3 separate regions of the Homo sapiens genome follow, and all the other regions are linked to region 2. Evidence: fine-mapped expression QTL. A gene starts in region 2. Each other region holds a variant in brackets. All regions are shown on one strand. Distances are between the middles of the regions.

What was found. PIP is the estimated chance that this variant, and not a neighbour inherited with it, causes the effect. A credible set is the group of variants that fine-mapping cannot tell apart.
Region 1: its variant is the best candidate, but not a certain one, in a credible set for the expression of TMEM250 in whole blood (TOPMed, PIP 0.85).
Region 3: its variant is the best candidate, but not a certain one, in a credible set for the expression of TMEM250 in whole blood (TOPMed, PIP 0.63).

Annotation. Positions count from the first base shown.
Region 1 is chr9:136,043,307-136,050,930 of GRCh38, forward strand. It overlaps NACC2 (NACC family member 2), which reads right to left. Exons shown (of 6, transcript NM_144653.5): 2 at 6,330-7,274. The coding sequence starts at 7,215. Among named protein-coding and RNA genes, the nearest start is that of NACC2, 48 kb to the right of the region's middle. The variant C/T (reference allele first, on the strand shown) is at 3,641.
Region 2 is chr9:136,115,169-136,122,792 of GRCh38, forward strand. It overlaps TMEM250 (transmembrane protein 250), which reads right to left and starts at 3,707. Exons shown (of 2, transcript NM_152833.3): 1 at 3,317-3,707; 2 at 1-1,856. The coding sequence starts at 1,732. The coding sequence ends at 1,313. LOC107987142 (a long non-coding RNA gene) reads left to right here and starts at 2,624. Exons shown (of 2, transcript NR_165242.1): 1 at 2,624-2,734; 2 at 6,618-7,624. RefSeq lists enhancers at 1,653-2,228, 2,229-2,804, 3,958-4,534, 4,535-5,109 and silencers at 2,821-3,870, 3,901-4,290.
Region 3 is chr9:136,073,056-136,080,679 of GRCh38, forward strand. All of the region lies in intron 1 of NACC2 (NACC family member 2), which reads right to left. Among named protein-coding and RNA genes, the nearest start is that of NACC2, 18 kb to the right of the region's middle. RefSeq lists an enhancer at 1,581-2,331. The variant C/T (reference allele first, on the strand shown) is at 4,438.

The DNA.
Region 1 (7,624 bases), 72 kb before region 2:
GTCACAATAAAAGTTATAAAGTACGGCTTATTCAACCTGTGAAACGTGCTCAGCGTTACTGACCATCAGGGAAATGCAAATAGAAACTACAATGGGATGTCACTGATATTCCACCCACGAGGAAGGGCTGAAACGTCAAGGCTGACAGAGAACCCCGGCTGCCGTAAGGCCGTGGGGCGCCTGCTGCTCTCACGGGCTGCTGGTGGGAGTGCGGCCTCATGCAGCCCCTTGGCCTCATGCGTTCAACCACATGACGAACAGAAACCATGACACACGGAAATATACAGGATCTACCGCTGCACGGTCTCACGCACAGGGATCCTATGAGAAGCAAAAGGGCAGTAGGAGGCAGCAGGGTGGTGGTCCCGTGGGGCCAGGATGGGGTAGACGACTCTGTGCAAAGAACCCCAGGGTAACATTCTACAGGAGGGAACTGTTCTGTATGTTGATTGCAACATTGCACTTGATTGCACAGTGAACTCACTGATGGCACACTTTGTAAAGGATACAAATACTTTTGGTTTTTGTTTTTTGGTTGGGGACAGGGTCTCGCTCTGTCACCAGGCTGGAGTGCAGTGGCGCAATCTCAGCTCACTGCAGCCTCTGCCTCCTTGTTCAAGTGATCCTCCTGCCTCAGCCTCCAGAGTAGCTGGGACTACAAGCGTGCATCACCACACCCGGCTAATTTTTGTATTTTCAGTAGAGAAGGGGTTTCGCCATGTTGGCCAGCCAGCTCTCAAATTCCTGACCTTAAGAGATCTGCCCACCTCAGCCTCCCAAAGTGCTGGGATTACAGGGGTGAGCCACCACGCCTGGCCAATACAAATACTTTAGCAAGCAAAAAAGGCGGGGAGGAGAGAACAATGGCCTAGACGGGCCACACCACAGATGCACCATATCTACAGGATGCTGATGAAAGCAGACAGATGGTCCAGTGCGGTGCTCCCACCTGTAATCGCAGCTTTTTGGGAGGCTGAGGCGGGAGGATTTCTTGAGCCCAGGAATTCGAGGCCACCTGGACAATATAGCGAGACCCTGTCTCTATAAATAATTACAAAATTAGCTGGGCATAGCGGCACATGACTGTGGTCTCGGCTCCTCGGAAGGCCTGAGTTGCAGGGGTATTGGCCCTTCAAAGCAGAAGGAACCCTTCACCCCCGACCCCTGCAGCCAACGGCACTCCCCGGTCTGGCCATCTCTGCTTGGGGCCTCCTCTTGGGCCCCACCCTATCCAGGCCAGAGATGAAGGCACCCTCTGCTCCCTGGGTGGTGGTGGGGGGGCTCTAACAGTGCGGACGCCCCCGTCCCAGGCCACAAGGCAGCAGAGTGGGGACGATGGTGCGATTTGCATACTCAGCAACCCCAAGTTCAGCCCCTCTTCTTGCTTCTCTCTGGGAACCCCAAACAACAGTCCTGAGTTTTGAGCTGCTGGTGGGAGCGGCCTCGGACATACAGCCCTGCTCCCCGACCGGGCAGGTGTACCTTCCGGATGGGTAATGGTGGGGGGTGAGTGGCTGCAACGGAGACCACCCTAGCCAGCAGCCCTGGCCACCTGGGTTCTGTGGCCCAGGGCCGGGAGCACCCCACCCAAGCCTGGGTGTTCAGCCGGGGGATGGACGGGGCCAGTGCTGACCTTGCAGGTCACCCTGAAAAGGGTGGGGCCCGCAGCAGGCCTCTCCTGATGGGCAGAGCCAGGACAGATGTGCTGCTGTGTGCCACGACCCACACCCAGTGGCATCTGTCCAGGGTCCAGGATGTGGGCAGCTGGTCTGAGGCTGGATGGGAGGGTCTCCTGGACCCTGAGCAGTTCCAACTTTGCCTGTTTTGCCTGAGTTCAGACCGCCCCATGGAAGTGGGTACCCAGCTTAGGGATGGGTGCCTGACCCCCATGCCCTGCAGAGAGGCACACAGGGGACACCGGGTGGACCCCAGAGAGGTGGGGGTGGAGGGAGCCAGAAGGGAAGGGGAAGCGGACATGCACAGGGCCACCCACTCACGGGCCCACAGGCCCTGTGGCCAGAGCTGTCCCCTGCCAGGAAAGGGTTACCGTCACGGGCCCACGGGCCCTGTGGCCAGAGCTGTCCCCTGCTGGGAAAGGGTTACCGTGGAAGTGTGCAGCTGGTGTCAATACCCAGGCGTGGCTTTGTCTCTGCCAGCCACACAGAGTGACATCTGCCAGCTGCAATTAAACATCTGCCCGCCCGAAGCCACTGCTGAGGGCATGAAAGGGATGGCCGGGCGAGCCCCATCAGGCACAGGAGGGGGTGTGGGCGCAGGTCCGGGCAGCCCCCTCCCCTTCAGAGGACAGGAGAGAAGCCCCAGCATGGCACTACCCCTTCCCTCTGCGAGCTCCATTTCCCTGTCCCTCGACCTCAGCGGTCTGCCATGCCACAGGTGCCCGTCCTCAGCTTGGGTGACAACGGCCACCCCCACTCAATGAAATAACCGTCAGGGCCCCGTGCTGTCATCTGCCCTGGGGTAAAAGCAGCTGCCATGACCGTCTCGGCTGTTGCAGGGACCTGTGGATCCAGATGTGCCAAGGAGACCACGGGAACAGACCCCTGAGCGCAGCTGGGGAGCCCCCACCCCAAGCCCAGCCCCAGCTGGCGCTGCCCACCCGGCCGGCTGCCTTGCCGGGGAAGCCCCGGCTCCCGGTGTCCCTGCTGGACGTTCAGATGCCCCCGAGCCCTGAGCCCCAGCGGGAATGCAGCCGCACCCTGGGGGAATGAAGGCGGGTACGCGAGGAAGAGGGCCCGAAGAGGAAAGGGGCTCCCGCTCAGGCCACAGCACCACCAAGTCCCAAGGCACAGGCTCCCTCTGCCCGGCCCACCTCCTGCTCTCTGGAGGGGCTGGCCCCTGACTCACCCCCGTGGTGGGGCGGGAAGGGATGGGGGTGCAGGGGAGGCGGAGGCAGGCATTTCGCAATCTCTAGCTCAGATGCAAGGCCCCTGACAACGCCAGGCAGGGACGCCTGCGCCTCACCCTCTGGGAGGTTTCCCCATCAGCCAGAGGGGAACTGCACTGGGCGTTTCCCTTCCGGTGGATACGATGTTTTTCTTTCACCCCTGGGTGCACCCCACCCCCAGCTCATCTTGCTCCGGGGTCTCCCGAGGCTGCCGGCCACAGGGCCAGGAGGAAGGTCCCTGCCTGCCGCAGGGGTGATGGCTTAAGGCCCAGGAGGGCGCCCTGAAGTGACTGCTGCAGAGATGAGGGCTGGTGGGTGGGAAGCACTGAGCGTCCCGAGCCAGCGTCCACCTGATGGGGACCGAGACGGGGCCTGCCTCGCTGCGGGTGGGGGGGCTTGAACTCGGCCCCATCAACCTCACACACCCATGCATGGCGCCTTCTCGCAGCTTTGCTCCTGACTGCAACAAACTGAAAACAACCTGAATGTCCTTTGATAAGGCACTGGAGAAATCAAACGTGGCGGCTCCTTCTGACGGGTGGTGACGCGGGACCTGGAGGGAGGGAGGAGAGGCACGAGACAGACACCGCATGGAGACCCTTGCCGTGAGGCCACACAGACCATGGGGCGGGGGCTGTGCCGGGGACAAAAGGCAATTAACTTTATCTGTAATATTTTGACTTATTTCAAAAACAGGAGAACAGCCCTACAGGACAAACTGTCCATGGTTCTTAA[C/T]GCGAGAGAGGGTGGAACAGGCACACGCATTACCACACACCAAGGTGCAGCTCCGGGACCCTCGGCAATCGCTCAGGCCCGCCTCTCACTCAACAGGTAGGGAGACTGAGGCCAGGGAGGAGGAGGAGCTCAGCCTGCAGGGACCTTAGAACACGCTAGTCCTACCAGCCCAGAGAGACAGCTACCTGCCTCCACTCCTGCACGGCCTGGCGAGGGCAGCAGCCAGCCTCCTGCGTGGGTGTGAGGACGTTCCCCGGACGAGCCCGGGACACGGAGGGCACGGGGAGCTAGCACCCAGGGGCAGCTCCAGGTCAGGCGACGGCCCCTCCCTCTACCTGCTCCCCCCATGGCACCGCCAACCCAGCACACCCAGCGACGCCAGCAACGTCACAGCCAGTAACCTAGATTTTAACCAAGAAATCACACACCCCCTTTCTCTGCCCCACTTATGGGCTTGCCGAACAGAAAAACCATGACAAGAAACCCAGACTGTGGCATCCAGAGCCAAACTGTATGGTAGGTGGGCGGGAGCAGGCCTGGCCTCCCAGCCGCCCACTTTCCACCTCGCTGGCATCAGCGACACCCGTGCAAAGGCAGAGAATGCCGCGCAGCACCTGCGGCCTGGACAAAGCCCTGCAGGAACATGGCCTTGAGGGTGTCCCCACCCCTCAGCCCCAATGGGACTGTACCTCGTGTGGTCTGAGTACGGGGGAGTTGGAGGGAAGGACTCACCAGAGCAGCTGCCTCCCGTCCCCACCCAACACACATCCGGGACTCCACAGAGCCGCTTCCTGGCTGCGGTCCTGCTGACTCCCCAAAAACCCATCAAGGCAGGTGGGCGTGAGGGCTTCTAGCTCACGAAGTCCAGGCGATGTGAGGGCTTAAGGCTGACCCAGCACCCAGGGGCAGATGCATGGGACAAGTCACGAGGCTTCACCGTGCTCCCAGCAAACCCGACACCCAGCCCTGGCTCCCATCACCCCAAACACACCAAGGCCCAAGGTCACATTGGAGCAGCAGGGGGCTGTGCAGGGAGGACCCTGGGAAGATGTTTGGATACGATGGGTCTGTTTCCATCTCCATGGTGCAGCTCCCTGACCCGTCGGCAACCCGTCGGCAGGGCCCTGTCTGGCTGCCATTGTCGGCAGGGCACTGTCTGGCTGCCATCAATGGGGGATGTCCTCAGGGACTGTAGGGGTGCCCAGCCTGTCTGGGGTTCTGCCCTGGGACTGGAGCCCATGGACAGAGCTCCTTCCCAACAGGGGCCCTGGGTGGGCCTTGGGAGCCTTCCCCAGCAGCCTCTGGCTGGTCCCCTGCCTTCCCTGGGGTGGCTGTCAGCAGGGGCAGAGGGAAAGCGCACATGGGGCGGATTCCCCGGAGGCCTCAGCCAGCCGGGTCCACAAGCACTGACATCCTGTACGGCCTCTGTGGTGAGCCGGAGCCCGGTGTGCTCTGCCCTCAGGAAGGGCCAATTCCGTAGCTAGCAAAGCTCCCAGTCTCAGGACAAATCAAGCCCTACCCCCTACCACTAAAAGAAAACAAAAGCTGTGAAGCCCAGATCGAGGTGGCCTGTGAGCTGGCATTCTGTGGGATTCATGCAAACACAGCAATATACATTTAAACCAAGTGCGGAGTTCTCAGGAAGACACCACGGAGCCCAGAGCACCTGCTGGCAAGGCAGTGGCTTCTCCTGCAGGCGGAGAGGGAGCCAGGTTGGCCAAAGCAGTGGTTACCCTGCTGTCCCGGCTGTGGTGACAGACGCTGCACAGGGACCCAGCTGGCCTAGGGGTCCAAGCTGGTGGGTGGTCCTGGCCCCCTCTGCCCCCAACCAGCACTGCAGGAGGGGAAGGGCAGGGGGGCGTCCCATCAGGGCACAGGGATATGCGTGGTGGGGTGGAGAGAGTCCCTACACTGCCCCTCGGGGTCCACCACCTGCCCGTGGCTGGCATTATGCACCCGCACCCAGGCCCAGGCCGCTGCACACAGGCCCTGCATGCAGACCAGCCAGGTGGCCAGCCCAGACACACAGTCAGGTTGCAGGGACACCCGATCCTGGGCACCAACTGTGGGACTCTGCCCAGCAAAGCCTGAACAGTCTCCAGAGGCTGTAACCAGGAATCTCCAATTAGGGCAACCTGGGTTTGTGGGGCCCAGGACGGGGAGCAGCCCTCCTTGAAAGAAAGGAACGGAGAGGAGGGGGAGCGACTGCTCACTCGGCTCAGCACACTGGGCGCTTCCTGGCCCATCCCTGGCGCGGGGCCTGGAGAGGTGGTGGCAAAGGGGCTGGGTTCAGGGGACTCTCTAGACCTGGCCGGGTGAGGCGCAGACTGAGGTTAAAGGGGAAGTAGGCGGGTCCTCCCGTACACCGCGTGGCGCCAGGCCCTTCACAGACGGGGAACGTGAACCCTGGGGCAGGTCCCTGGGCCACGGGACACCTGCGTTTCCTCATCTATCCAGTGGAGACAAGACCCTTCCTACAGGCTGGCAGAGTCTCCTAGGAGTTCTTGTCTCATCCAGGACCAAGTCTGAACCCCATGGTGAACAGAGCTCTGCCACCTCCTCCAGGCTTGGTGGGGGGCTCCCCTGTGGCCCCGCAGGCCTCCGGCCCAGTGGCCTCCTGAGCCACCCGGGTCCCAGGCAGGCCCCGCTTCCCAGCCAGGTGGTGTGGGGCTCCACCCCGCCGCGTTACCTGCATAGCTGCCGGAGGCCTTGATGTACATCTGGCCGTACTGCTCCTCCACCATGGTGTCGTAGGCCTCGTCGTCCTCCTCGTCCTCCTCGTTGTGGTACGAGGTGGGGCTGTCGGTGGTGGGCAGGCTGCTGGCGCCTGGACTGGTCCGCTCCCCCTGGGGGTAGGGCATCTGCTGGATGCCGGGGATGAGGGTGGCCAGGCTGGGCACCCCGTAGTAGGAGACACGGGGCAGTTTGAGAGGGGCTGTGCCCGCCGCCACCGCAGCCCCCGCGGCCACCGCCACGCCGTCCCGGGGCCCCGTCTCCAGCGGGCGCTTGGGGGCCAGGCCTGGGCCGGCCGGCGGCAGCTCCATGGCTTCATGCTTTACTCGGGTCAGCAGCGGGATGGGCACCGAGGGGGACACGACGTAGGGGGCCGCGGCGGCGGCGGCCGGCTGCAGCTGGTTGCAGGGGCTCTGGGGCTCGGAGCCGGCGTCCTCGATCACAGCGGTCTGCGAGTCGCAGTGGGGCGAGCTCACCTTGAACATGAGGTCGGTGCCGCGCTCCACGATGTGCTGGATCTGCAGGAAGCCGGCCGTGTACATGACCACGAGCTGCTCGCTGGCCGTCATGGTGAGCCTGCCCGTGTAGCAGAAGGACAGGATCTGCTGGAAGCAGGCGGGCGGCACGGAGCCGGGCAGCTCGAAGGCGCTCTTGCTGTTGCCGCTGAACAGGTCGCGGAAGTAGAGGCTGCTGGCGGCCAGCACCGCCCGGTGGGCCTTGAAGGCCTGGCCCTTGACCACGATGGACACATCGCAGTAGAGGCCCAGCAGGCGCTGCTCGTTCAGGCAGCCCAGCACTGTGTTCCCGAAGTTGGGGATCTCGATGTGCAGCATCTGAGACATGGCGGGCGGGCAGCGGCGGGGCTGGGCTCTCAGCGCGGGGCGGCCCTAGCGGGGCTCATCTGTGGGGGGCAGGAGGCACGTGGTCAGTTCCTCCAGGTCACGGGCTCCCCGCTCAAGGGGCCGTTCCCACCCCCTCCTCCCCCGCCGGGGGCTTACAAAGAGCGAGCCTTCCGCACGCGCCCTCCCCCGCCCCTCCTGGCTGGGACACTCCAGAGAAGGGACACGGGGTCTCCCAGACCCCCTGGCAGACGGGCAAGAGGGCCCGGCCAGCACTGCTGCAGATCCCCGGGGTGCTGCCCGGCAGGAGTGCGCCCACGCCACTCCCAGGGGGCTGCTCTTAGCGACTCGGTCTCAGCAGGCGAGGAGGAGCGCAGGCCTGAACCTGCCCCGGGACAGGAGGTGGGGGCCG
Region 2 (7,624 bases):
CCTGTGTCCTGCTCTAGGGTAGCCTCTGCCTGTTGTCCTTGCAATCATTATTCAGGGCGCCCTCCCACTTGCCCCCAAAGTCACACGGCCATGGGCAGTCCACCATAGTGCTGCCGTGACTGCAAGGCTGAGGAGCAGAGCAAGGGGTCCTGGGTGAGACCTCGGCCCATGGTGGCCACCCTCCCTGAACACAGGCATCTGCGCCCCTCCAGCCCACCTGCCCCTGTGCCATCATTTGGGCCCCCCAGACACTGGAGGACAGCGTGAGATAAGATCTCAGCATATACCTGGGGCTCTAAGATGCTGCTGGTGCCACACAGGCTCTGGGGCTGTGTTTGCCGCACTGAGGCCTCTGCCGCCTGCTCCGGACACTTGGGACACGCGTTTCCATCCTGGCTCACTGAAGCCTCGATCTCCCAGGCTTTCTTTGACGGTGTTCCCTCAAAGAAAGAGGCCCAAAGCCCTCCCCCGCAAAAAAAGCCAGAAAGGAATGGAGGTGCCTCCGCAGAAATCCAGAGCATCTGCAAGACATCCTCACAGCCCTCCCAGAACAGGCAGACAGGCCAGTGTTGCTGGAGTCAGCCCCTGGCTCCCAGGGTTCCCCCCAGGCCAGCCCCTGAGCTGGGAGCCTGCTGAGGCCCCTCCCACCTGAGCCCTTCTCCGGCCCCCCGCTAGACTGCATCTACACAATCCAAGGGGACCCTGAAGGCTGGCTGGGGACTCAGGACCCACACAGCCCCTCAGGATGACACACACAGGGTGGTCCGCGGGCAGTGCCAGGCCTCAGGCGGCCCAGGGCAGAGTAAGCAGCTTTGTGGCAGTGTGGTGTGTCAGCGAGGGGAGCCTTCCGTGTCCCGTTGGCTGGGGCTGGGGCCAGGGCACGCAGAAGGGGCTGTGCAGCCAGGAGGGCCCCCCTCCGGAATTGCTCCTGGGCACACAGCCCTCTGTGTCCAGGGGCCTCCCAGGGTGATGTCTAAAGTCCCTGGCAGCTGTGGTCCTGGAGAGAGGCCCACAGAGAGGCGGAACGGAGGGCCCACCCCGCAGTACGACCCGAAGACATGTGAGCAGGAGCCACCGGCAGGTGGGCGCTGCCCCTGAGAGTGCATACGGGGAGGGTGGGTCCAGGAAGCCAGCCTAGGGGTGGTGTCCGCGCCCCCATCACAGAAGTCTCAGCCCTTTCTTTTCTCTCCGTGGGCGCCGGGCAGCAGCGACTGCCTGGGGGATGGGCGAAGGGAAGGCGCTGGCCGACCCCACCCATGGAGAGAACACAGCCACAGGCCGGGACGATACATCAAGCTCGCACCCACGGCCCTCACATGTCCACGAAGACCATGAAGCACCAGCCCAGGCCCCCGACCAGCAGCATGGTGACGTGGATGCCATAGACGAGCAGCTCGTTCACCAGGCGGAAGTCCACGCGCCGGCGGCCCAGCAGCAGCAGCAGCACCGACAGCTTGCGCTGGAAGCGCAGCAGGACGCGAACGCCCAGGTACTGTAGGCAGAAGAGGGCGGCCAGCGCACCCCAGAGCGCCGCAGTGAACAGGCTGCAGCTAAAGTAGAGTAGGAAGCGGATGAAGCCGTACAGCCAGCGCGTCTTGATGTACACGTCGAAGTTGTTGTACTTGGTGCGGGCCAGGTGGGAGGCGCGCACGGGCCCGCAGGCCGCATGCAGGCAGGTGGTGTGCGGGCCGTGGAAGGAGCGCACCCGCCGCGGAATGGGCATGACCGGCATTGGGCCCCGGCGGCGGCGGCGCTAGGTCGCAGTGGCGGCGGCGGTGTCCAGGCGGCTGTTGGCGTAGGGGTCATGGGCGCCTAGGCCTGGGAGCCCGCAGCTGACCCTGGGGGGAGGCGTCGGCCTGCGGGGAGAGCCGCAAAACCCACGTCAGTATGAGGACACCATGCGGATCCCTCCCCAGGCAATCAGCTGGCGAAAGTGGACACAAACTCCAGCACCAGGACTACGGGAAAATGGAGTCCAGGGCGGGATCTGCAGGCACTCCTGGGCTCTTTTCCACAAACCCTCCCAAGGATACTTCCAAGGGGCCCACCACCTGGGGAAGCCAAAGTGCTTGTTCTAGGGCAGCACTGGGGAAAGGGGGCCTTGGGGACAGTGGCCAGGGGAGGCCCCCGGAAGTGGTCAATGCCAAAACGGATGGGAAGGGGCAAGAGTGGCTCTTTCCTGCAGGATCCTCGCAGCTCCCCACTAGCTGGACCACACTCTGCTCTTAGGCAGTTTGCCCGTTACTGCCCTGGTCTTCTGCGGCTGCCTGACCCAGGGCTGATGCAAGCCCTTAAATGGCATCTGCAAGAAGCCACCACAGGGCCGGGAAAAGGGACTCCAGGGCTCGCAGGTGAACCGAAAACGAGCCCGGCGGGAGCAGGTGACTCCAGCAACCTGCTGGGTGCCAGATGGACGGCTCGGGGGCCGTGGGGTCACCTTGCTGGGCCTGAACCCTGGCACTGTCCTTCCCTAGCAGTGACTTTGGGCAGGTCACCTGACCCCAAGACGGCTCCTGCTCTGTCCAATGGGGGTGCCAATAGCACTGCCTTTGTGGGTAGCTGTGGGAGGGAAGGGGCTGGGCCTGGCGTGCACAGTGGGGTCGGCCCGGGGCCTGGCAGCGGCCCTTACAGACTGGGCTGCAAAGAGCAGAGGCGGCATTTGGCTCTCCAGCTTCACCTAGTAAAGGCCGTTTATACCTTGCCGAAATAATCTGTAGACGGAATGAACTCAAAGGTCAGGAAATAAAATCTGAGCAGGAAAGTTGGTAACATTACAGGGGACTGTTGCCAAGAGCTTCGCCTGCCTTCAGATTCAGCCTGGGGCCCTGCCGTGGGGACCTGGCCAGGGCGGAGGAGGGAGGGGCCGGGGCCGCCTGACCCTCCCGTGCCCGCAGGGGCCCGACCTCGCCCTCTCCCTCCGCCCGGCTCCTCCACGGGGTGCAGGGGCCAGAGCGGCCCTATTTAAGGCCGGCCTTGGCCTGGAGCTCGCCCCGGCCGGGACCCCGGCCATGGCGGTGCCACTCAAACGCGACTCGGCGGAGCTGTGTCCCCGCAGGGTCTCGCGGCCCGCGGCTCCATCCGGGTCCCTGCGTTTCTGCAGACGCCCGCTCGGCCCGGCCCATGGACCCAGGACTGTTTCCTCGGGGCCGCAGAGACGCAACGGGCCCCGGCCAACTCCGCGTGAGCACCGGGCCTGCGCCGCGCCGCGCCGGGCCCCCTGGCTGCAGAGCCCCTGCCGGAGCCACTTCCGGGTCCCGCGCCGCGCGTTGCCCTGGAGACGGCCCCCGCCTAGGCCGGGTCCCCGACCGCAGCTCACCCGGTGCCCTCTCCGCGGCGGCGCCGGCGTCCCGGACCTCGGGGCCGGCCGGCGGTGCTAGGGGCCGGGCCTGCGGGTGCCCCTGTCCCTCGGGGCTCCGTGCGCAGGGCGGCCGCATGGTGCTGGGGCGCGCGGCTGGGGGCGCTGGCAAGGCGGCTGAGGGCGTGGTTCACGCGTCGCCGGCTGGGGTCGCCCTGCAGGTGAAGGGGCTCTCGGGCGCGGCCGCCGGAGGCGTTTGGCCTAGCGTGGGAGCCGTAGCGCCGTCCCTCGACGGCCACCGTAGGGCGGCCTCACGCCCCCTCCACCCGCGCCGACCGAGCCGCACTTCCCTTCCCCCTGCTCCGGGCCCGCGCTGGGCGTCCCGGACTCGTCGCTTCCCGAGGGCGTGCGTGCGTGCGTGCGTGCGCACGCTGCGAGCAGTCCGTAGCGTTCCCTCCCCCGAACGCCCTCGGTGCCGCGCCTGGTCTTCTGCGCCTGCGCTTGCCGTTCCTGGGCCGCGCCTCCGCGCACGCGCTACCGCATCCCGTGGAGAGGCAGTGCGCAGGCGCGCTTCCGTGGAGCAGTCCTTTGGCCCCAGCAGAGGGCTTGACCGTGGTCCTGGCCCCGGACTGAGGTGTCTGCGACCCGGCGCGCTGCTGCCGTCGCTGGGGTGGGGCCGGGCCCCGGAGGAAGCCGCTTTCCCGGCGGGGGTGGGCGGCCCAGGGACCGGGAGCAGGTCTGGTCCTCGCGGGGCCGTGTGCGAAGGCCTCCTGCGCGGCCTGGGGCTGGGAGGACAGGGCGGCGGCGGGAATGAGGGCGCCCCCCAGGCTCCAGGAGGGCGGGGAAGGGTGGGGGCGGCTGACGCCACGCGGACCCGGGCGGCACGGATCGGGTGTGTAGCTGCGAGGCCCGGTGGGCCGGCGGCGACGTCGGCAGCCGAAGTAGGGACAGCCCCGGAGCACGAGCAGGCCCAGCAGCAGCCCCAGGGCCGCCCCCCCGCCGCCCCCCAGTGAAGGAAGGGGACTTGTGTTAGTGTCCTCACGCCTGGTTCGTACAGGCTGGCGGTTGTCCTGGGGGTTTCCAGCGAGGAATGTGTTGGGGAGCGCTCCTGGGTGTGGCTGCTGGGTAGGAGGGGAAGGCAGGGTCAGCAGCCCCTGGGGCGACCGTAAAGTGGGTGGCCCTTCAAATTCAAGGCACTGGAACAAGGGGGCTGGGCCCTCCTGCCCACCAGGCCCGTCATTGGCTGCAGGCCTCCCGGGACGGCGAGCTGGCTCCTGGGCCCCTGTCCTTTGGACCAGGGCCGCCCTGAGGGCTGGCACAGCTACCTTCTCCACTGTGGCCCCATCCCCGCCACAGGAGAGAGAGCCGCCTTTACCCGACATGAGCAGGAGTTCGAGGAACATCTGGACGAGCAAAGGCCACCAGGAGGTAGCACAGCAAAAAAGGCCAAGAGCCTGTTTTCTTTACCGATGGCTGGCGGCAAATATTCCGAAAGAAACGTGTCAGGCAAGAAGCGCTAGTTCACGCCTGTCATTCCACCGCTTTGGGAGGCCAAGGCAGGGGGATCACTTGCCCCAGAAGTTTGAGACCAGCCTGGGCAACATAGTGAGGCCCCTGTCTCTACAAAAAACTTAAAATCAATAAACAGGTCTCCTTCCTTCCTCAATAGTCCTGTTGGTGGCTCACCTCTCTGCCTCTCCAGATGTGAGGCAGATCCACACGTTTAGCTATTGAGATAAGGCTGGGCGTGGTGGCTCACACCTGTCATTCCGGCCTCAGATCTCTTGTGCCCAGGAGTTTTAAGACTAGCCTGGGCGACCTGGCTGGCAACATGGCCTCCACAAAAATAAATAAAACATTTTAAATATATAAACATTGAGATAATAGCATCTTGATGCCTGTCTTCATTTTTTGTCTTCTGTTTTAAGGACTATTAGAGACAAACTAACCAAAGATAATTCTCCCCTCCCATGTGGCTCGTGCTGGGACGCCGGCACCGTGAGATGGCGCCCGTGGCCAGATAGAGGGTGGCGTGTAAAGCAGGTGGTCACCCGTCACTCGACTTTTCGCGTGCTGGTGAGGGTGGTCGCATGTCCATGGATCAGGGCTCACACCTGGCCCATCTGGTGGCTGTGCCATGGGAGGAGCAGAGCCACAGCCCCGCTCCTTGCTGTGGGTTTCCCGTGTCCTCCCTGCCCTGCAGTCCCCTGACTCCAGCTCTGGATTAGACACCCCCTGCTTCCCACTGTGCACCCGCCCAGAGAAGCACAGCATGCGTGCCTGCACTTGCCCCCACGCTGCTACCCTGCTCTGGGTACCAAGGACACAGGCACAGCAGAGCCCCCACCCTCGAGGCACCTGTCATCTTGTGACAGGGACAGGCTGAGGGGCAAATGACCAGAAAGGGTGGCAAGTGCCATGTCAGACATATGGTCTTCATACAGGGGATGTCCCAGGACTGCTGGGCCAGAGACCCCTCCATGTGGGTCAGCATCACCCAAGCCAAAGGCCAAGGAGGTCTCTTGGGGGGTGTGGCCGTCAGAACAAAGCTGCCAATGCGCGTACTTTTAAAGGTGCGGTCAGCTAGTGAGGCTGTGGCTGGCCCTGGCTGCATCCAGACCCTGGAGTGTCCTGCAGCCAGGGGCGGATGCAGGTTTTGTGGGGCCTGAGGCTTCTGTGGTTTAAGGGACCTTCCTTAAGAAAATACAAAATTAGGAACAGGCCTTGAAGCTTCTGCTGCTAAACAGGGTCAGGTGAACCCACTGCCAGCTGTGCCCAGAAGACAGTCCCCCAGGCTGAGTCAAAAGTGGTTCATAGGCCGGTCATGGTGGCTCACGCCTGTAATCACAGCACTTTGGGAGGCCAAGGTGGGCAGATCTCAAGGTCAGGAGATCAAGACCATCCTGGCTAACACAGTGAAACCCCGTCTCTACTAAAAAACTACAAAAAAAAAAAAAAATAGCTGGACGTGGTGGCGGGCGCCTGTAGTCCCAGCTACTGGGGAGGCTGAGGCAGGAGAATGGCATGAACCCAGGAGGCGGAGCTTGCAGTGAGCGGAGATTGCGCCACTGCACTCCAGCCTGGGCAACGGAGTGAGACTGTCGCAAAACAAAGAAAAAAAAGAAAAAAAAAGTGGTTCACAAAGTCACGTCTAGTGTGACCCCTCATCAGCACAGACGTACTCCTAGGTGTCCGTTTCTGGGTGAAGTCCTGGAAGCAGATAAATGTTTGCAGAGGTGATCTATGTGTGGTGGGATTAAAGAGATGAATATATTTTACTGTTTTTTTAACATTTCTGTACTTTCTGATTTTATTTTTTCAGCATGAACAAACAAAAAAAAGCCGGATTTGGACAAATAAAAAGAAGTGCATGTCAGCCCGAGTGTCCTGAAACATGTTCCTGTATTAGAATCTCCAGGAAAGCTGGGGCCCCCACTCGCCACTACCTCAGGCTGGGCCCGCAGTCACGTGCTTCTCCCTACAGGAGGGTTCTGTGTCCTGAATTCCCAAAGGGTGCAGCTGTCCCCTTGTCGCCTTGTCTGTGTTGATGGTTCCACACTCTCTGGTCAGCCACCTGCCCCGCCAGTCTCTGCTCGCCCATGGATGGGGATGACCACTCTAGCTGTGAGGGTGGCTTCCCGGGCTAACCCTGCTGCTGCTGCCCATTGCTTCCAAGGCTGGGATATCACTTGGGGTTTGGGGTGAGGGGACAGTAAGGGGGAGCCCTGGTTGCCCTTTCCAGGAGAATGAGTATTTAAGTGCGGAGTTGTTTATTACTTGACTTCAGCAGAGGCGCCATGGTCGGGGAAACGCTTCATGTGCCTTGGGTTATAGGGCAAGTCCCATCTGTCTGCCTTGAATTTCGGTTTGGAGAATCTGTAAGCTCCACACACGTGGAAGCGTCTGTGCCCCGGGTGTGGGTTCTGATCTTGGTTGTGTTCGTGGCTGGACGCTGTCCTTGAGGCCACCCCTTGGCACCCTTCACAGAAGACAGTGGGGGTCGCCCTTCCCTGGCTGACCCTCCAGAACCGCCAGCCTCCCCTACCTCCCTGTGAAACCAGGGTACAGGGCAGGAGCCTGGACCTCTTTACAGTTGCCTTTTCTCTCTCTCTGTCCCTTCTCCATCTTCCGAGCTCCTACTCGCCCTTCAGGACCCAGCTCGAATGCCCCATCTCTGGGAGGCGCCTTCAATCTTGGGCTGCCCCTTCCGTCACACCCCCTGTCCCCTGTCTCCTGCCTCCCCTTCCTCCTCACACAAAGCCACCCCCGCCTGTTGGTGGCCTGTGTCTCCGCTGGCCCAGGGCTCTCTTGCCGTGGCCACCGTGGGTT
Region 3 (7,624 bases), 42 kb before region 2:
ATGAAAAGACAAGACACAGGCTGGTAGAAAAAACATGCCAGGAACACATTTAACAAAGGACTAATATCTAGGCTACATAAAGAATTAATTGGCCGGGTATGGTGGCACGTGCTTGTAGTCTCAGCTACACGGGAGGCTGGGGTGGGAGGATCACTTGAGCCCAAGAGTCCAAAACCAGCCTAGGCAACATAGGGAGACTCTGTCTGTACAAAAAATAAAAATAAACTAGCTGGGCATGGTGGAGCGCACCTGTGGTCCCAGCTACTTGGGAGACTGAGGTGGGAGGATCGCTTGAGCCTAGGAGGTGAAGGCTGCAGTGAGCTGTGGTCTTACCGCTGCACTCCAGCCTGGGTGACAGAGCAAGACTGTCTCAAAAAAAAAATTTTTAATAAAAAATAAAAAATGAGGACCCCAGTAGGAGCTGCAGTGGACAGGGGGTGTGAGCGTGGATCCAGCTGTATCAGAGTATAGTCCTGCCCATCAGGGGAGAAGAGGCGCTTGTCTCAAAGTGAAATGCACAATTGGTCTCGAATGCCAAAGAGAACAGGAAAAGACAAAAGACTCCAGTGGATGTATGGACAACCCAAGAATGTTTGCAGAAAGTCGACTTGATTTCCCTCGGTTCATAATACCTGGAAATAAGGAGTATGAAAAGCAGCTGCGTGTGTGCTACAATTTTGGCACAATTTGCTCAGTTTCAATGGGTCTATTCCTAATTGTTTTAAAGGTGCTTATGCATCCTCTACTGCCAAGTACTGCATTTGCGTCCAAGCAGGATTTGGTGTTCTGTCTGCTAAAATGCTGCCTGGTCTTGGAGTATCTGGTCTGCCCAGAAGCAGGGTCAGCAGTAAGCGGTGATCCTTCCCTCTGCCCTGAAAGCAGACCCTGGCTCTCACCGAAGTAACCAACAGGGATTTGCACAGACTCCGTCATGTCCTTGACTATTTTTTTAAAAAAATTAAGATCTTGGCCGGGCACAGTGGCTCATGCCTGGAATCCCAGCACTTTGGGAGGCTGAAGCAGAAGGATCACTTGAGTCCAGGAGTGAGAGACCAGGAGAGATGGTAAGATTATAGTCTCCACAAATAATTTGTTAAAAAATTAGCCAGGCATGGCCAGGCGCGGTGGCTCATGCCTGTAATCCCAGCACTTTGGGAGGCCGAGGAGGGCAGATCACGAGGTCAGGAGATCCAGACCATCCTGGCTAACACGGTGAAACCCCGTCTCTACTAATAAAATACAAAAAAATTAGCCGGGCATGGTGGTGGGCGCCTGTAGTCCCAGCTACTCGGGAGGCTGAGGCAGGAGAATGGAGTGAACCCGGGAGGCGGAGCTTGCAGTGAGCCGAGGTTGTGCCACTGCACTCCAGCCCGGGCGACAGAGCAAGACTCCGTCTCAAAAAAAAAAAGAAAAAAGAAGAAAAAGAAAACAAAGTTCTTCATTCCAGAAACATTAAGGTTCTTTATAAAGATGTTAATAATTTCTGAGGTTATTTAAAATTATGTATCATCCCTTCAATTAACACAGACGGACAGGTCAAAACCATTCCTCGTTCTGTCACAGCAAGGCTGCCTGCCTTCCTCAAGGAACCTATCTCTGGTTCAACATTGACTCAATACTGACCGTGCCTCCACCAAGTCACACCCTAAACTGCACCGACAGATGAAGCTGGACCTTCCGAACGACCATCCCCTGTGACTCCCAGAGGGCCCATGTCGGTGGTCACATTCTGTTCCCAGCTCACCTGCGGGGCTCGGGGATGTATCACTCAGCCTCGGCGTCTACACCTCACACAGAGCGGCAGGAAGCGTGGCCTTCCCAGCCGAGGCGGAGTCGGCAGGGCCGGGGGATGCTGGCGGGAATGGGTTCTCGCACGGCCTCCTTCTGGGAGCCCGGGAGCTCTGTCCCCCACTCACTGTCGCGTATGGGGCTGGGGGAACAGCAATCGGATCCTCACGAAACAGTGACGTGAGGCCCAGTAGAGGACGTGACCTCCTCCAGGCCGACGCTCTTGGTTCTGCGTGAAATGAGCCGATTCCACCTTGTCCTCAATGGCGGCTTCTGCTCCCTCAAAGCGGCAGGCCAGGAAGTGGGGAGCCCCAGGTGTGGGTGCAGCAGGCTGCAACGCCCCCCACACACAGACTTGGCCTCAGACAGCTGTCACATGGCACCAGGGAGGTGGCCAGGACTCCAGGACACATTCTGGTCCAGTCCGGCACTGACCGGGATGAGGGAGAGCTGGCTGCGGCCGCCTGGCTGGGATACTTGGGGGGAAAGCCCTCCCTAGCTCCCCCGAGGCTGGCTGCTGCGAACTGACTGAAGCGCTCATTACAGGGTGTCCACTCTCCCCGGGCTTGGAACTCGGAGGCGAATGTCTCCCCGAGCCTGTTTCCCTTTCGTAGACGTCGGCAGCGGCTCCGTGTGAACCTGCCGTCTCCTACATCGCGGTACAGTTTCTCAAACAGATCGCGCAGCTGGGGCCAAGCCCAGGCTGTCGTGCCTGAGGACGCATCTTCTTTTATCGGGCATAGGCCCACATTCAGGGTTCGGGGTCGCAGGTCCTGCGGGAGCAGAGCCTGCAGGGCCCCCTCAGGAAACCTGTGCTGATGCTGTCCTGAGCTCCCTGTGCCCGGTCTTCCACACGCGGGGAGGACACCCCCGTGCAGACTGCGCCCAGGGGAGGAGACCCACCCAACACCCACAGGCCCTGTCGGTGAAACCTCAGAGACAGGGGTCTTGGGTTTGGGCTCTGAGGCTCGGGACACAAGATTCAATAAGAGCAAAGTCATCTCCTCTGGAGTGAGAGGCTGCTGAAAACGGAACCCAGGCTTTCCTACAAAGCGCCCAGGAGCAGCCCCGCAGCCCTCCATGTGCTCAGTGCCTGTGGCCCTGGGGCTGCTGCCCACTCCTCTGCTGCATCTGTGACAAAACTCCGAGACACCCGCTTCTCAAAGCCCTGCATGAAGGTTACGTGTGGTCACGAAGAGATCCTGCAAAGAACAGTCATCGAAAACTTGGAAATAAAGTAAACAGGCACCCTTCGCGGCCTCTGCCTGATTTGCAACTCAGTAGTGATGACACCCCATACCCCGTGACATCCTAAGTCTCCTATATGCAACCAAAAGAAAAGCAAATGATTTCCATCCAGTAGCAAAGAGAACCCCAAGGGGCAGCGTTTCCCGGCCCTGCGGAACTCGAAGAAGTGCTGTAACTAACCCAACAATCTATCCAGCCTCCTCTCCTCAGTGACTCTAAACACCCAGTTCCTCAAATGTTCTCTGAGCCAGGTTTCCTGCCCATACCACGACAAAAATGAAATGAAATTCTGATGCACCCCCCAGCCCGGTGAACCTCAAAGACACTATGCCGAGTGAAAGCCACCAGGCACACACAGACAACGCCACGGGGTTCCACTCACACGCGGGCACAGAGCAGGACAGTTCAGAGACAGGAAGCAGAACGGAGGTTTCCAGGGGCTGGGGGACTGCGGAGGGGAGTTGGTGTTCAATGGGTGCAGTTTCGGTCAGGGATGATGAAAACGTTCTGCAAACAGAGGTGAGGGTTGACAGCCATGGGAATGTTCTTACTGCCACTGAACTGTGCGCTTAAAAAATGGTTAAAATGGTGAATTTCATGTTGTGTATATTTGACTACAATTTTTAAAAAATGTATTGGCCTGGTGGTGGCTCATGCCTGTAATCTCAGCACTTTGGGAGGCTGAGGTGGGTGGATCATGAGGTCAGGAGATCGAGACCATCCTGGCTAACACGGTGAAACCCCTTCTCTACTAAAAATACAAAAAAAATTAGCCGGGCGTGGTGGCGGGCGCCTGTAGTCCCAGCTACTTGGGACTAGGCGGAGAATGGCGTGAACCCAGGAGGCAGGGCCTGCAGTGAGCCGAGATCGCGCCACTGCACTCCAGCCTGGGCGACAGAGCGAGACTCTGTCTCAAAAATAAATAAATAAATAAATAAAATAGCCGGGTGTGGTGGCGGGCGCCTGTAGTCCCAGCCACTTGGGAGGCTGAGGCAGGAGAATCGCTTGAACCCGGAGGTGGAGGTTGCAGTGAGCCGAGATTGCGCCACTACACTCCAGCCTGGGTGACAGAGAAAAAAACAAACAAAAATTAGCTGGGCGTGGTGGCGGGCGCCTGTAGTCCCAGCCACTTGGGAGGCTGAGGCAGGAGAATTGCTTGAACCCGGAGGTGGAGGTTGCAGTGAGCCAAGATTGCGCCATTGCACTCCAGCCTGGGCGACAGAGCAAGACTCCGTCTCAAAAAACAAAACAAAACAAAAAAAGCAGAAGAGAAACATGGCCTTTGGCAAAACAAACAAACAAACAACAAAAACCCTAACAGGGCACAAAGGACATTGTTGATAAGTCGTGCTTCATTAAAATATTGAAAAATAAAGACCAACACTAAGAGAAAAAACAAGC[C/T]GAGAAGGACAGACCTTTGCAACATATGTATCTTCAGCAAAGGGCGTGTGGTCAGAGTATGGAAAGAATTCTACAAATTCTACAAATCCATCAAGAAAAGGGAAACGCACAGAGGAGGGAGGGGCAAGAGCCCAGAACAGGCCCTTCACAGAGGAGAAGGTCCCCAGGCGGTGACACCTGAGCAGGGGGCAGCTGTGTGGTCACCCGGGAAATGCGAGGGGACCCCAAGGACTCTGGCCACCCCCACACCGGGGAGCAGGCAAGGGGGCAACAAAATTGTGCTTAAAATTATTTATAAAGTAATAAAAGGTAAGTGAAAGTAGTTTGAAAAGTGAATAAGGAATCAGTGATGAATACTGACTTGTGCTTTATACGCAAAGGTGTGCCTTTGGGAGTGAAAACCACGTAAATAATATCAGTCCAATCATAGTTTTGTTTTGGGTTTTTTTGTACTTCTTTTTAGTAGAGACGGGGTTTCACCATGTTAGCCAGGCTGGTCTCAAACTCCTGACCTCGTGATCCACCCGCCTCGGCCTCCCAAAGTGCTGGGATTATAGGCATGAGCCACCGCGTCCGGCCCAATCATACTTTTATAATCACGAGGTTTGCCGTACTATCTTTAAACAATCCATGCACGAGTTTACAGACACAGTGGTAGAGAGTGGGATGGACCAGGCACCCACTCAAACCCTCATCCCCAAGGCCGGGTGCATACCCACCACCTGGCAGGGGTCCCCAGGACCCCCACCCCCCGCAACCTTGTGGCCAGCCCCACTCGCCTGCAGGCCAGAAGACGCCAGAATTCCACGAAGCTCAGTCCCTCGGAATGCAGAATTCATGAGGGGGACAGGCACATCTGGGGGCAGGTTCTCCAAATAATTCTGGCTCTCTCATTTCAGGAACTAAAGGCCCAGGCTTTTCCATTTAATCTTTAAATGGCAATCCTTAATACAGGTTTTTCCATTTAATCCTTAAAGTAAGCGCAGGAGAAATACCATTACCCTACTGTACAGATGAGAAAACTGAGGCTTGGAGGTGGGACGTGGCCCGCTCACTGGCCCTGGAACCGTACCTGGATGCATAGACGGGACTCCAGGGGAATGTACTCCTAGGCCATAAACCTGTGCGAGGCAAGAGGGGCCAGCCCAGCCCCGACATCGGGACAGAAAGGGGCGTGGGAATGGCTGGGGGACAGGTCAGGCACCTGAATCTCAGCCACATCAGAGCTGAGCAAAGCGAGCCCCTCAGGCAGGGCTGTCATCACGAGTGTGGCACCACAGCCACCGCCGCATCCTGGTCCCCAGTAAGCACCCCCAGCGTGGTCCCCTCCAGGAACTGAGGCTCTCAGGGCAGGGCCTCTCGCCCCTTGTCCAGGCGACCTTGTGGGTAAGCAGGGGAAGCCAAGGCAAACTCAGGAGCACACACCCATCCCCACGGGGAGCAGATGCCCTTAGCACCGTCGCCGGCATGATGCCGCGCCGCCGCCGCCCCTCTCCGATTCCCTAACGGTTCCCGAGGGAGCACTGAAGGTAAATATGTTAATTTGACTTCAATCATAGCTTCTTCTTTTTTTTTTTTTTAAGTGCACACGGTATTAGTTTAGGGCACGTAACCTGAAATCTACTCACGTATGTCTGTGCGTCCCGTCCTTAACAAGAGAAAGCTTGAGCTCTTGCCAAGAGGGCTAAGGGCTGAAGAGGCTGCAAGGTGCAGACATCCTCCCAGGGTGGGAACTGCACTCTCTGAGCTGAGGGGGAGACCAGGGAGAGGCAGGGCACTTGCCCAGAGTCCCACACCCAGGAAGGGCTGCCTGGCACCCAGCCACCTTCAGGCCTGATGGAACGGGGTGCCATCCTCTGGCTTCCAGGCAGGAGACACTCCTACAAGCACAGGATGCCAACTGCAGAAGCCAATGCGTGGACTCCGGGGGCCCTGCAGGTGCAGCCAAGGAACCAGGATCTCCAGACAGGCCCCAGGCTGTACAGGCTGGACGCCAGCAGGTGGGGCAGCAAGCCCCTCCTCACCCGCAGGCATGGGCACCCCATGGCCTGCTGAGAATGACACGAAGGAACAGGCTGACTCACTGAGTGGAAAGGCCACTTGGCCCTCAACCGAGGGCAGAAGAGAGGCCAGAGGCCCCCCAGAGCTCCTTCCTGGGGCCCTGCCGTGGCCGGCACTCCCCGAATGCACTCCAGGGTCACCAGAGCCCTGGAGCGTGGCTGCAGAAGCCAGATGGGTCTCAGGCCTCCCACTACCCATTCTGCGACTAGGAATAGGAAAGTTACGAAATCTTGAAGCCTGTAAGATTTCAGGCCACCAGGACAGGCAGCAGCCGGGGAAGTCTCAACTTTCCAGGACCCCAAGGCCCCAGGGGCCAGGCCACAGCCGTGCTGTGGAAGGAGCCGCTAGCCCTGCCACCTGTTCCCCAAGGAAAGCTTTTGGAGCTGTTCCCCAGGGAGAGGCGGCCCTCCTGGAGAGCTACAGATGGGCTCTGCTGGCCATGGGGCTGCCTGGGCCAGGCCTGGGGCTGACCTGATAGCCCACACCCTTGGCCACCCACTGTAGTCATGGCCCAGCTGGCAGAGACACACAGTCCCTACCCCGGGCGTGGCTGCCAGCCAAAGCCCATGCCACTGTGCCCCACAAAAGCCAACGGTTTGACCACAAGGGCCTCCTGGCAGGGCCCTGTAGCCACGCCACACCAGGGATGGTGCCAGAGCGGTACTGCACCCCCAGCCTGTACAGCCTCATCCCAGCAGGGCCCCCGCACCCATCTCTGTGCTCTCCTTCTCTGAGCCCAGGCCCCTTCGCTGCCCCTACATGGGATGCCACCTCTCAGGGCATCCAAAACCCAACCCAGGTTCTAGGAAAATCCGCCCAGCAGCCCACTGCAGTGGGGTATTAAAAACGTCTCTATTAAAAATACAAAATTAGCTGGGCGTGGTGGCGCACGCCTGCAATCCCAGCTACTCGGGAGGCTGAGACAGGAGAATTGCTTCAACCTGGGAGGCAGAGGTTGTGTGCTGAGATCGTGCCACTGCACTCCAGCCTGGGTAACAACAGCGAAACTCCATCTCCCCACTACCCTGCTCCAATAAAAAAACTCCAACGCTACTGCCAGCACACCATCCCCCACCCCACAGACCGCACAGAATCAGCCCAGGAAGGACACTCCACGGAGCTCTTG